Regions from separate parts of the Homo sapiens genome. Here region 1 is linked to region 2. Evidence: fine-mapped QTL for protein levels in blood plasma. A gene starts in region 2. The other region holds a variant in brackets. All regions are shown on one strand. Distances are between the middles of the regions. Region 1 overlaps ADAMTS13 (ADAM metallopeptidase with thrombospondin type 1 motif 13). Region 2 holds the start of ADAMTS13 (ADAM metallopeptidase with thrombospondin type 1 motif 13).

Region 1 (5,455 bases), 15 kb after region 2:
ATCCCAGCACTTTGGGAGGCCAAGGCAGGTGGATCACCTGAGGTCAGGGGTTCAAGACCAGCCTGGCCAACATGGTGAAATCTCGTCTCTACAGAAAATACAAAAATTAGCCGGGCGTGGTGGTGGGCGCCTGTAGTCCCAGCTACTCGGGAAGCTGAGGCAGGAGAATCACTTGAACCCAGGAGGTAGAGCTTGCAGTGAGCCGAGATTGGGCCATTGCACTCCAGCCTGGGCGACAGAGTGAGACTCTGTCTCAAAAAAAAAATAAAAATTAAAAAAGAGAGAGAAGGACATTGGGACCCCAGTTCATAAACCAGGCCAGTCCTGCTGATGCCCACAGAGCCCCTGAAGCGTCCCGCCTCCCTCCCTGAGTGCCACTTTGCCCTCCAGAGCGCATCTCTGCAGGGAGAACCTCCCCACTAGGAATACAGTGCGCTGCTGCATGCCTGCAAAGGAATTTTTTAAATATTATTTTTATTTTTTTAGACAGAGTCTCTCCCTGTCACCCAGACTGGAGTGCAGTGGTGCTATCTCAGCTCACTGCAACCTCTGCCTCCCAGGTTCAAGCGATTCTCCTGCCTCAGTCTCCTGAGTAGCTGGGACTACAGGTGCCCGCCACCACGCCCGGCTAATTTTTTGTATTTTTAGTAGAGGAGGGGTTTCACCGTGTTAGCCAGGATGGCCTTGATCTCCTGACCTCGTGATCCGCCTGCCTCGGCCTCCCAAAGTGCTGGGATTACAGGTGTCACTGCGCCTGGC[C/T]GAAGGAGTCTTTTATTTATAAATTGAGGTGACATTCATGTAGCATGAAATCAAGCATTTTAAAGTGGCAACTCAGTGGCCTTTAGTACACTCACAAGGTTGGGCAAGTACTGCCTCTGTCTAGTTTCAGAACGTTTCCAGTACTCTGGAGTACTCTGGAGTGAACCCCATATGGTAGGCTGTCACTCCCCATTTCTCCTCCGCCACTCAGCGGCCATTGGTTTCCCTTCTGTCTCTGTGGATTGACCTGTTCTAGACATGCCACGTACCTGAGGCCAGACAACAGGTGTGCTTCCTGCCTGCCTTCCTCCCCCAGCGGCACGTCCCCAAGGCTCACCTGTGTTGTAGCCTGTGTCAGCGCCTCATTCCTCTTTCTGGCTGAATCATATTCCACTGCAGGGATAGACCACATTTTCATCCAGTCGTCTGCTGATGGACATCTGAGGTGTTTTCACCTTTTGGCTCCTGTGAACAGAGCCGCTGCGAATGTGCTTGTACATGTTTGAATCCCTGTTTTCAATTCTTTTGGCAGTATGCTGAAGAGCGGAGTTACTGGATCGTATGGGAATTGTATGTTTGACTTTTTTTTTTCTTTTTTTTTTTTTTGAGACAGAGTCTTGCTCTGTCGCCAGGCTGGAGTGCAGTGGTGCAATCTCAGCTCCCTGCAACCTTCGCCTCCTGGGTTCAAGCGATTCCCCTGCCTCACCTTCCGGAGTAGCTGGGATTACAGGCACGCGCCACCATGCCTGGCTAATTTTTTGTATTTTTAGTAGAGATGGAGTTTCCACCACGTCAGCCAGGATGGTCTGGATCTCCTGACCTCAGGTGATCTGCCCGCCTTGGCCTCCCAAACTGTTGGGATTACAGGCATGAGCCACCGCTCCCGGCCTATGTTTGACTTTTTTTTTTTCTTATTTTTTTCTTTCTTTCTTTATTTTTTTTTTTTTAGAGATGGAGTCTCGCTCTGTCGCCCAAGCTGGAGTGCGGTGGCGCGATCTCGGCTCACTCTAAGCTCCGCCTCCCAGGTTCACCCCATTCTCCTGCCTCAGCTTCCCGAATAGCTGGGACTACAGACGCCCGCCACCACGCCCGGCTAATTTTTTTTTGTATTTTTAGTAGAGGCGGGGTTTCACCATGTTAGCCGGGATGGTCTTGATCTCCTGACCTCGTGATCTGCCTGCCTCGGCCTCCCAAAGGGCTGAGATCACAGGCGTGAGCCACCGCGCCCAGCATGTTTGGCTTTTAAAGAAACTGCCAAACCGTTTTCCACAGTGCCTGAACTGTTTCACATTCCCACCAGCATTGCGCCAGGGTTCCAGTTTCCCCACATCCGCTGCAGCACTTGCTGTTTTCTGTTGTTGTTTTTTCTTTTCTCTTCTTTTTTTTTTTTTTTTTTTTAATAGAGATGGGGTTTTGTCATGTTGGCCAGGCTGGTCTTGAACTCCGACCCCAGGTGATCCGCCCACCTTAGCCTCCCAAAGTGCTGGGATTACACGCGTGAGCCATGGCGCCCGGCCTGTTTTCTGTTTTTTGATTTTGGCCATCTCGGTGGTATGAAATGGTAGAAAGATTCTTTTTACATTGAGTTAAATTCTATCTCCTGCTTCGATGGCCCTGGGTGTGGGTTTGTCCCTGGCTGTATTACAGTTCTGCATGTGGTGAGACCCTCCCTTTCCTCCTTCTCCAAATGGACCACCAAGACCTCCCCAGACCGTGAGGGGAGGGTCTTTGGCTGGAGCACAGGGTGGTGGGATTTCGTGGAGGCAGTGTGGTCAGTGTGGCTGTCCAGGGAGTCAACTCCGGTTATCTTCTGTCAGCCCATAAAAGTCCAAGACGCCTGCCTGAGTGCAGAGGCTTCGGTGGTGAGGTCTTTGCTCCATGCTTTGGTTACCTGCCTCTAGGTGCACTACCTAAAGAATACACATCCCCGTCCCTGTTTTATTGAGTTCAGGCCTTGGAAGCAGAGGCTCTGAGCGTAATGCTCTTTCCTGGCTTTCTTCTTCGTTGCTGCCCTGTGTTCTTTACGGATTCCCCGGGGTTTTCCCATCAATAGAGAGAGGCAGGCACTTTTGTCACCCCAGTTTACAGAGCAGGGAACCGAGGCACGGCCTGGAGCTGAGGCCACACCCACATCTTGATCCTGTACTGTAGGGTGCCATGTAGTCTCCCAGTGACAACACCCGCCCCCCGCCCCACCGCCATCCCCCTCCTCTGCCTCCTCCTGGCCAGGCCTGCGAGAAGACCCAGCTGGAGTTCATGTCGCAACAGTGCGCCAGGACCGACGGCCAGCCGCTGCGCTCCTCCCCTGGCGGCGCCTCCTTCTACCACTGGGGTGCTGCTGTACCACACAGCCAAGGTGGGGCCTGCGGAGTGTGGGGTTGGGGGAGGAGCCAGCCCTGGAGACCCTCGGACAGGGCAGAGTCATAGGGGGGTTGGCCTACTATCCCTCCAGCACTGGGCAAAGTGGTTCAGGCTCTGGCATCCCACAGACCATGGATGACATAGTGGCCAGGCCTCGCTGGTAGATCAGGCACTGACATCCCATCTCTGAGTCTCAATTTCCCATCTGTGAAATGGAGATAATAGCAGTAGGTCCCTCCCTGGGCGCTACAAGGATTCAGGGAGATAATCGGAAAATGCCAAGTGTGTTCCTTGGTTCATGATACTTTTTTTGTGAGACAGAGTCTTGCTCTGTCGCCCAGGCTGGAGTGCAGGGGCGTAATCTCAGCTCACTGTAACCTCCGCCTCTGGGATTCAAGGGATTCTTGCCCCTCAGCCTCTCGAATAGCTGGGACTACAGGCTTGCACTACCATGCCGGCTAATTTTTTTGTATTTTTAGTAGAGATGGGGTTTCGCCATGTTGGCTAGGCTGGTTTCAAACTCCTGACGTCAGGTGATCCGCCTGCCTCGGCTTCCCAAAGTTCTGGGATTACAGGCATGAACCATTGCGCCCAGCCTTGGTTCCTAATTCAATACCATTAATTATTAGATTAGATTAGGATCGTGATTAGGATTATTGCCTTAGGAGGTGGGATGTGGGGAAGATAGAAACCCTTGCCCCAGATGCAAAGGATGAAGCTGGGTGGGGGCTGGGGGACTTGCCCCTCCTGCTCGGTTCAGGACACCCTTTTTCACTCTGCCCTCCCAGGGGATGCTCTGTGCAGACACATGTGCCGGGCCATTGGCGAGAGCTTCATCATGAAGCGTGGAGACAGCTTCCTCGATGGGACCCGGTGTATGCCAAGTGGCCCCCGGGAGGACGGGACCCTGAGCCTGTGTGTGTCGGGCAGCTGCAGGGTAGGCGTGTGTGGACATTGGCGATGGCCCTGGGGCCTACCTGTCCTATCGGAAGGCTCCTGGGGGCAGGTTGGTGGGTGCTGGCCCTGATGGAGCTGCAGTGCCCTCTGCAGGGGAGTGGTGCTGGGGAAAAGGATCTGGACTTGGAGTCAGCCTGGGTTAAGGGCTGCAGTGTGACCTTGGGCAAGTCACTGAGCCCTCTAAGCTTGCTTCCTGTGTAGATGGTGGGGTGCTATAGAAGTGTTGCTGGTTTTGTGGATCCCAGAATCTCAGAGCTGGCAGGGCTGCAGAGTCATTGAGGCCAGCACCCTCCAGTGACACGGGCCCTCTGTCCTTCCCTTTGCATAGACATTTGGCTGTGATGGTAGGATGGACTCCCAGCAGGTATGGGACAGGTGCCAGGTGTGTGGTGGGGACAACAGCACGTGCAGCCCACGGAAGGGCTCTTTCACAGCTGGCAGAGCGAGAGGTAGGCGGCCTCCCTCGGGGCAGAGGCTGGGCTTCCCCCAGCCTCCAAGATGGCCACAGCCCAGAGCGTTGGTGCAGGGGCTGCTCAGGTCACAGGGCCTGCACACTCACTCAGCCCTGGATGCCTCCTGTGGTGTCAGCGTCTCCCTCTTCCACTTCGCCACCCTTCTGTGGCAGGCTCAGGTTTTGGCCTTGATGCTGCTGGGACTGTGGTGCCTCAGTAATGGTCACTCACTGTAGCCGTGCTGCAAAAAAAACACAGACATTGGCCGGGCGCTGTGCTCACGCCTGTACTCCCGGCACTTTGGGAGGCTGAGGCGGGTGGATCACCTGTAGTCGGGAGATCACCTACAGCCTGGCCAGTATGGTGAAACCCCATCTCTACTAAAAATACAAAAATTAGCTGGGCATGATGGCGGGCGCCTGTAGTCCTAGCTACTCAGGAGGCTGAGGCAGGAGAATTGCTTGAACCCAGGAGGCAGAGGTTGCAGTGAGCCGAGATCCCTCTGCACTCCAGCCCGGGCAACAGAGTGAGACACTGTCTCAAAAAAAAAAAAAAAAAAGTATGGACGTTGTGCATTCTGTGGCAGCTACCCTCTTCTCTCCTGCTCAAGAAATCCCACTGAGAGGGACACAAGTGAATGAGAGGGTTGGTAGTTACATTTGGAAAATCTTTGACTTTGGTGTATATATGAGGTCAAAAACCATTTGCAAATGCCAGTGCTTCTATGGAGAGCAGAGACTTGAGCCCTGCCTCCCTCTGGCTTGCCCCACTGTGCTGGAGAACCTTGGACCCGGTCCCTTCTCCCAGCCAGGGCAGAGCCTTGGCAGGTGGTCCTCCAGCCTGCTTTTAATTGCCCCCATGACAGGGGACTCACTGCTGCTGGAGCCAGCCCCATGGCATTGTTCAATTTTTCCCGACCAGCTAAG
Region 2 (5,000 bases):
TCTCAATAAATGTCTGCGGGGAGCAGGGTGAAGTATGGGGGTGGAGCCATGAGCTCCTTTTCACACTTGCTGAGTTTGAACGGGCCGTCAGTCACCAAGGAGAGACGTCTAATCAGCAGCAGGATATAAGATTCCTAAGCTTAGGGAAGGGTCAGTGCTGGAGATGTAATTTGGAAATCGTCAGCACATAATTAGTGTTGAAACATGAACCTGGGTTAGTTCATCCAAAGAGAGAGTACCAATATAGGGAGTGAAGGGTTAAGACCAGATAGCAGGTGCTGGGGGCTCTCCAGGGGCGAAGCAGCAGAGGAGGCTGAGGGGGAGCAGTCAGTGCAGTGGGAGGAGAAGCGGATGTGAGTGGCATCAGAGAATCCAGGGGGAGAATAAACCACATCAGATGCTGCTGAGAGGCTGAGAAGGACGAGGACAGAGAGATGGGAACCAGATATGGCACTGAGATTGTCAGCAAGTCCACCGAAAAGGGTTTTCTTTTTTTTTGTTTGTTTTGAGACGGAGTCTTGCTCTGCTGCCCAGGCTGGAGTGCAGTGGCGTGATATCGGCTCACCACAATCTCCACCTCCCGGGTTCAAGCGATTCTCCTGCCTCAGCCTCCTGGGTAGCTGGAACTACAGGTGCACGCCACCATGCCCAGCTAATTTTTTTTTTTTTTTTGAGACGAAGTTATGCTCTTGTCGCCCAGGCTGGAGTGCAATGGCGCAATCTCGGCTCACCGCAACCTCCACCTCCCGGGTTCAAGTGATTCTTCTGCCTCAGCCTCCCGAGTAGCTGGGATTACAGGCATGTGCCACCACGCCCGGCTAATTTTGTACTTTTAGTAGAGATGGGGTTTCTCCATGTTGGCCAGGCTGGTATGGATCTCCAGACATCAGGTGATCCTCTCGCCTCAGCCTCCCAAAGTGTTGGGATTACAGGCGTGAGCCACCGCACCTAGCCTAATTTTTGTATTTTTGAAAAGAGACGGGGTTTCACTATGCTGGCCAGGCTGATCTCGAACTCCTGACCTCATGATCCGCGTGCCTCGTGATCCACCTGCCTCGGCCTCCCAAAGTGCTGGGATTAAAGGCGTGAGCCACCACACCTGGCCCAGGTTTTCTTTTTAAAAAAGGAAAAAAACTTTGTTCCAGCAGTTTGTAAACCAGGGCAATGCAGCCTTCTGTACAAAGGTGCATTCCAGGGAACAAAGAGAACAAAGAAAGAGGTCGTCTTTTGTAGAGAACTTCCTGCCCAGGTTCCCACTTTGGTCCACTTATGCAAATGAGGAAGGCACACTTGCTTAGTTCTGATTGGTTAATACTTGCTGAGTTCAGATTGGTCGATGCAGGTCACAGTCGATGGGTTGATTCTGGCGGCATAAACAGGAACAGATAGCTGTGAAACCATCCCAGAGTTAAGTGAGAGTGGGGGCTTTCCAGGAACGCAGAATGTGTGTGTGACCCTAGTCAGCAAATGGCTGCTAGGTCCTACTTTGAATTTAGGCCCAGTTAGTAACTTGGGATCCATCAAGAAGGATTGGCTCTTTCAGGGTTCACAAAGTTATTGGTGACCTTTTAAAGATCAATTTCAATGGTATGTGGGAATTGAAGGCAAGGAAGTGGAGATAGCCACTGAAAATAATGTTTCTAAGTTCTTAAAGACAGCCAGAAACAGGGCTATGGCAGGAGGACAGTGTGGGTCAAGGGAAGGTTGTTGATTGTAATCAAGAGACACCAGAGTGTCTGGGCTTGGTGGCTCATGCCTGTAATCCCAGCACTTTGGGAGGCCGAGGCAGTCAGCTCACCTGAGGTCAGGAGTTTGAGACCAGCTTGGCCAACATGGCGAAACCCCACCTCTACTAAAAATACAAAAACTAGCCAGGCGTGATGGCGGGTGCCTGTAATCCCAGCCACAAGGGAGGCTGAGGCAGGAGAATCACTTGAACCTGGGTGGCGGAGGTTGCAGTGAGCCGAGATCGTGCCACTGCACTCCAGCCTGGGTGACACAGCAAGACTCTGTCTCAAAAAACAAACAAAAACCAAAAAGAGACAGGAGAGTCATTCATGCTGATGGAGTGAGCCAGGTACCAGGATCTCGATATCTAAGCATGCCCCCTTCTCCAACAGCCTCCTTACCTTCCTGCATGAAAGCACACCCTTCCCTCCAGTCCCCCATTCCTTTATTCTGCTGTATTTTTCTCCATAACACTTACCACCTTTGAACATACTACATATACAACATGTGTCTGTCTAGCAACTTTGCTGTCTGGCTCTCTTCCCTAGAATTTAAGCTGTGAGAGGCCGAGGCTGCTGTCTGCCTGGCTTGGGGCTGCTTTCCTGGTGTCTAGCACAGAGCCTGGCCTGTTTCAGGGGCTCAGTGAAACATTTGTTGGCTGAAGGAATGAATGAATGGCTCTAGCAGAGGGGCAGAAACTAACGATGCAGGAGGAGAGAGCTGGGAAGGGATCCAGAGCCAGGGCCTGGCAGGAAGTGTAGGTGTGTCCTCCCTGATCGCAGAGGAGGAGAGAGGCTGCACTTTGAGGGGTGGAAAGACAAGGTGAATCCCCCTGCTGGTCATCAGCTTGTGCGGCTCTGTGGGTGTAAAAGAGTGGTTTGGAGCATGTGAAGTGAGTCTTCCAGGAGATGAAGGGGATTGCCAGGCCGTTTGTGATGATGCTGAGATCTGGTGCCGTGCAGCCTGCTTCTGCGACTCTCCTCATCAGGCGCAGGCACAGAGTAGGTGGAGAGTTGAGCCAGAACCACGATGTCTTTGGCACAGCCTCTCATCTGTCAGATGGGAGCGGGGACCCCGGAGAGGGAGTCAGCCGAGGTCCTGGCATTCCTTGTGAACCCCCGTCTGTGGGTTTCTGGTCCAGTGTCCCTTCTCCAGATTAGATGGCTTAGGCCTCCTCTAAGGGGGTGGGCGTGCACATCCGGAGAGCTGTCTGGTGTGCAGGACTGGGCTGCAGGTTACCCTGAACTGCAACCATCTTAGAGCAAGGCCCAGCTTGCAGCAGGAGGAGCTGCAGGCCGCCCACCCTAGCCACGGCCCCTGCCCTGGCAGGAAGCTTCCAAGAGTAAACACTGCCTAATCGTCCCGCCCAGTAGTGAGCAGGCCTGTCCCATTCCATACTGACCAGATTCCCAGTCACCAAGGCCCCCTCTCACTCCGCTCCACTCCTCGGGCTGGCTCTCCTGAGGATGCACCAGCGTCACCCCCGGGCAAGATGCCCTCCCCTCTGTGTGGCCGGAATCCTTGCCTGTGGCTTTCTCCTGGGCTGCTGGGGACCCTCCCATTTCCAGCAGGTGGGCTCATTTGCAGGAGCGGGGGTATTCTGGGAGCCTCTGGGTGGGGTATTCTGAGCTACCTGGGGCGAGGGGAGTGCCAAATAGCTGACTACATCAGCTTTGGGGTTTGCGCTGGGCAGGGGAGTCTGTACTTGGGGCTTTGGGGGATGAAGTGTGCTCACTGAAGAGGGAGTTGGTGTCTCAGTACGACCTGCTCATTCGGTGAAGCTGAACAGACAGATACTAGTTTGTCCCAAACTGTGTAGGTTGCTCTTCTCTGCCTCTCCCTTCCTCTCCCTGTCTCTGATTTCCCCCTCTCCTTCTTGGTTGGCCTCACCCACCTCCTGCCTCCTGTCTCCCTCTTCATCCATCTCTTTTTGTTCTTTTTTCTTTCTCTCTCTCTCTTTTTTTTTTTTTTTTTTTTTTTAAGACATGGGGTCTTGTTATGTTGCCCCAGCTGGTCTCAAACTCCTGGACTCAAGTGATCCTCCCACCTCGGTCTCCCCAAGTGTTAGGATTACAGGCCAGAGCCACTATGCCCGGCCCCATCCATCTCTTTTTGTCTTGCAGAGTTGTCTTCAGGCTTTGGAGCCACAGGCCGTGTCTTCTTACTTGAGCCCTGGTGCTCCCTTAAAAGGTACTTGTCCTGGTGTCTTCTCTCCCGGGGGGAGTTTCTCAGGACTTTCAAGGGGTATCTCACCACTGAGTCAGTGGTCTGGGATTTTTGGTGGATCTGGAAGGAGAAGGTCAGAGAAGCTGCTGTCAACCCTGTTAATTAACTCTGTTACTTCCTGCCAAGTTGATATAAGCTGGTCTGGGTGTTCCAGCCAGGCCAGGGTTCTCACCCTAGCTTCTGTTAAATATCACAAGGGAACGGTCACCGATTGGCTGGCCCCTCCTGCCCCATGGCCTCTGCTGAGCTGGCTGATTTTCAGGAGCTCTTGTGGTTTCTGACCGTGGATGTAAATATTTATTCCTTCTGTGGGAAACAAGATAGGTACTGGCTCAGGCTACCTCCTAAGGCCATGGATTTCCTTATGATAAAGGCCTGTCCCCATTGCCCACAGGCCCATGTCTGTGACCTTCTCCGGTGCGAGCCCCCTTCCCAGTAGGGCCATTGGCAACTTGACTAATGGCTGATGGGGGCCAGAGGCAGGTGGGCTAGTGGTCAGGGGCAACAGGAGGGCAAGGCCCACTTTGTGACCTGGTTCTTTGTGGTCTAGGCCAGAGGCACACTGACCAGTGCCTGGGGCCACGCTGGGGGCTGGATGCAGCCGACGCTGTCTGGGTATCCCATAGCCTGGGTCCTTCCAGCGCTGCCGCTCCTGAAAGGCTGGGAGATCATTGCCCAGGGTCCCTGACCCTCTAAGGGCTCCCTTGGGAGAGGACAGTGAGGGCTGGCCTGGGCCCCTGCTTCCCAAGAGACCACTGGGCTCCACTCGTGTTCAGTTTCCTGTCGGGGTCCATGATGTTACTTGTGAAACACCTGTGCCCAGAGCAGGGTCCAGGAGGCAGGGCAGGGGCTTTCCCCTTTGGGCAGAGCCACCAGGGCAGTGGGAATCTTGTCTTGATGGGGTGACCCAAAGCACACAATAGCCCAACAGCTCCTCCTGGGCCCTGCCCTTTGCGTGCCTAGTCACTAATGGGGTCTGGCTCTTGGGGTGGGGGTGACACGCAATGTCTTGACTTCGGAAGGCCATCCTTCCAAGACCTGCCAGC

Evidence for each region. PIP is the posterior inclusion probability: the model's chance that the variant is causal. Protein levels are from the aptamer-based SomaScan assay of Sun 2018.
Region 1: its variant is fine-mapped to the plasma level of the ADAMTS13 protein (Sun 2018, PIP 0.95).

Annotation. Positions count from the first base shown.
Region 1 is chr9:133,433,841-133,439,295 of GRCh38, forward strand. ADAMTS13 (ADAM metallopeptidase with thrombospondin type 1 motif 13) reads left to right here. Exons shown (of 29, transcript NM_139027.6): 12 at 2,989-3,115; 13 at 3,909-4,057; 14 at 4,406-4,526. Among named protein-coding and RNA genes, the nearest start is that of ADAMTS13, 14 kb to the left of the region's middle. The variant C/T (reference allele first, on the strand shown) is at 760.
Region 2 is chr9:133,419,250-133,424,249 of GRCh38, forward strand. ADAMTS13 (ADAM metallopeptidase with thrombospondin type 1 motif 13) reads left to right here and starts at 3,118. Exons shown (of 29, transcript NM_139027.6): 1 at 3,118-3,299; 2 at 3,852-3,918. The coding sequence starts at 3,195. RefSeq lists enhancers at 2,273-2,412, 2,643-2,692, 2,813-2,872.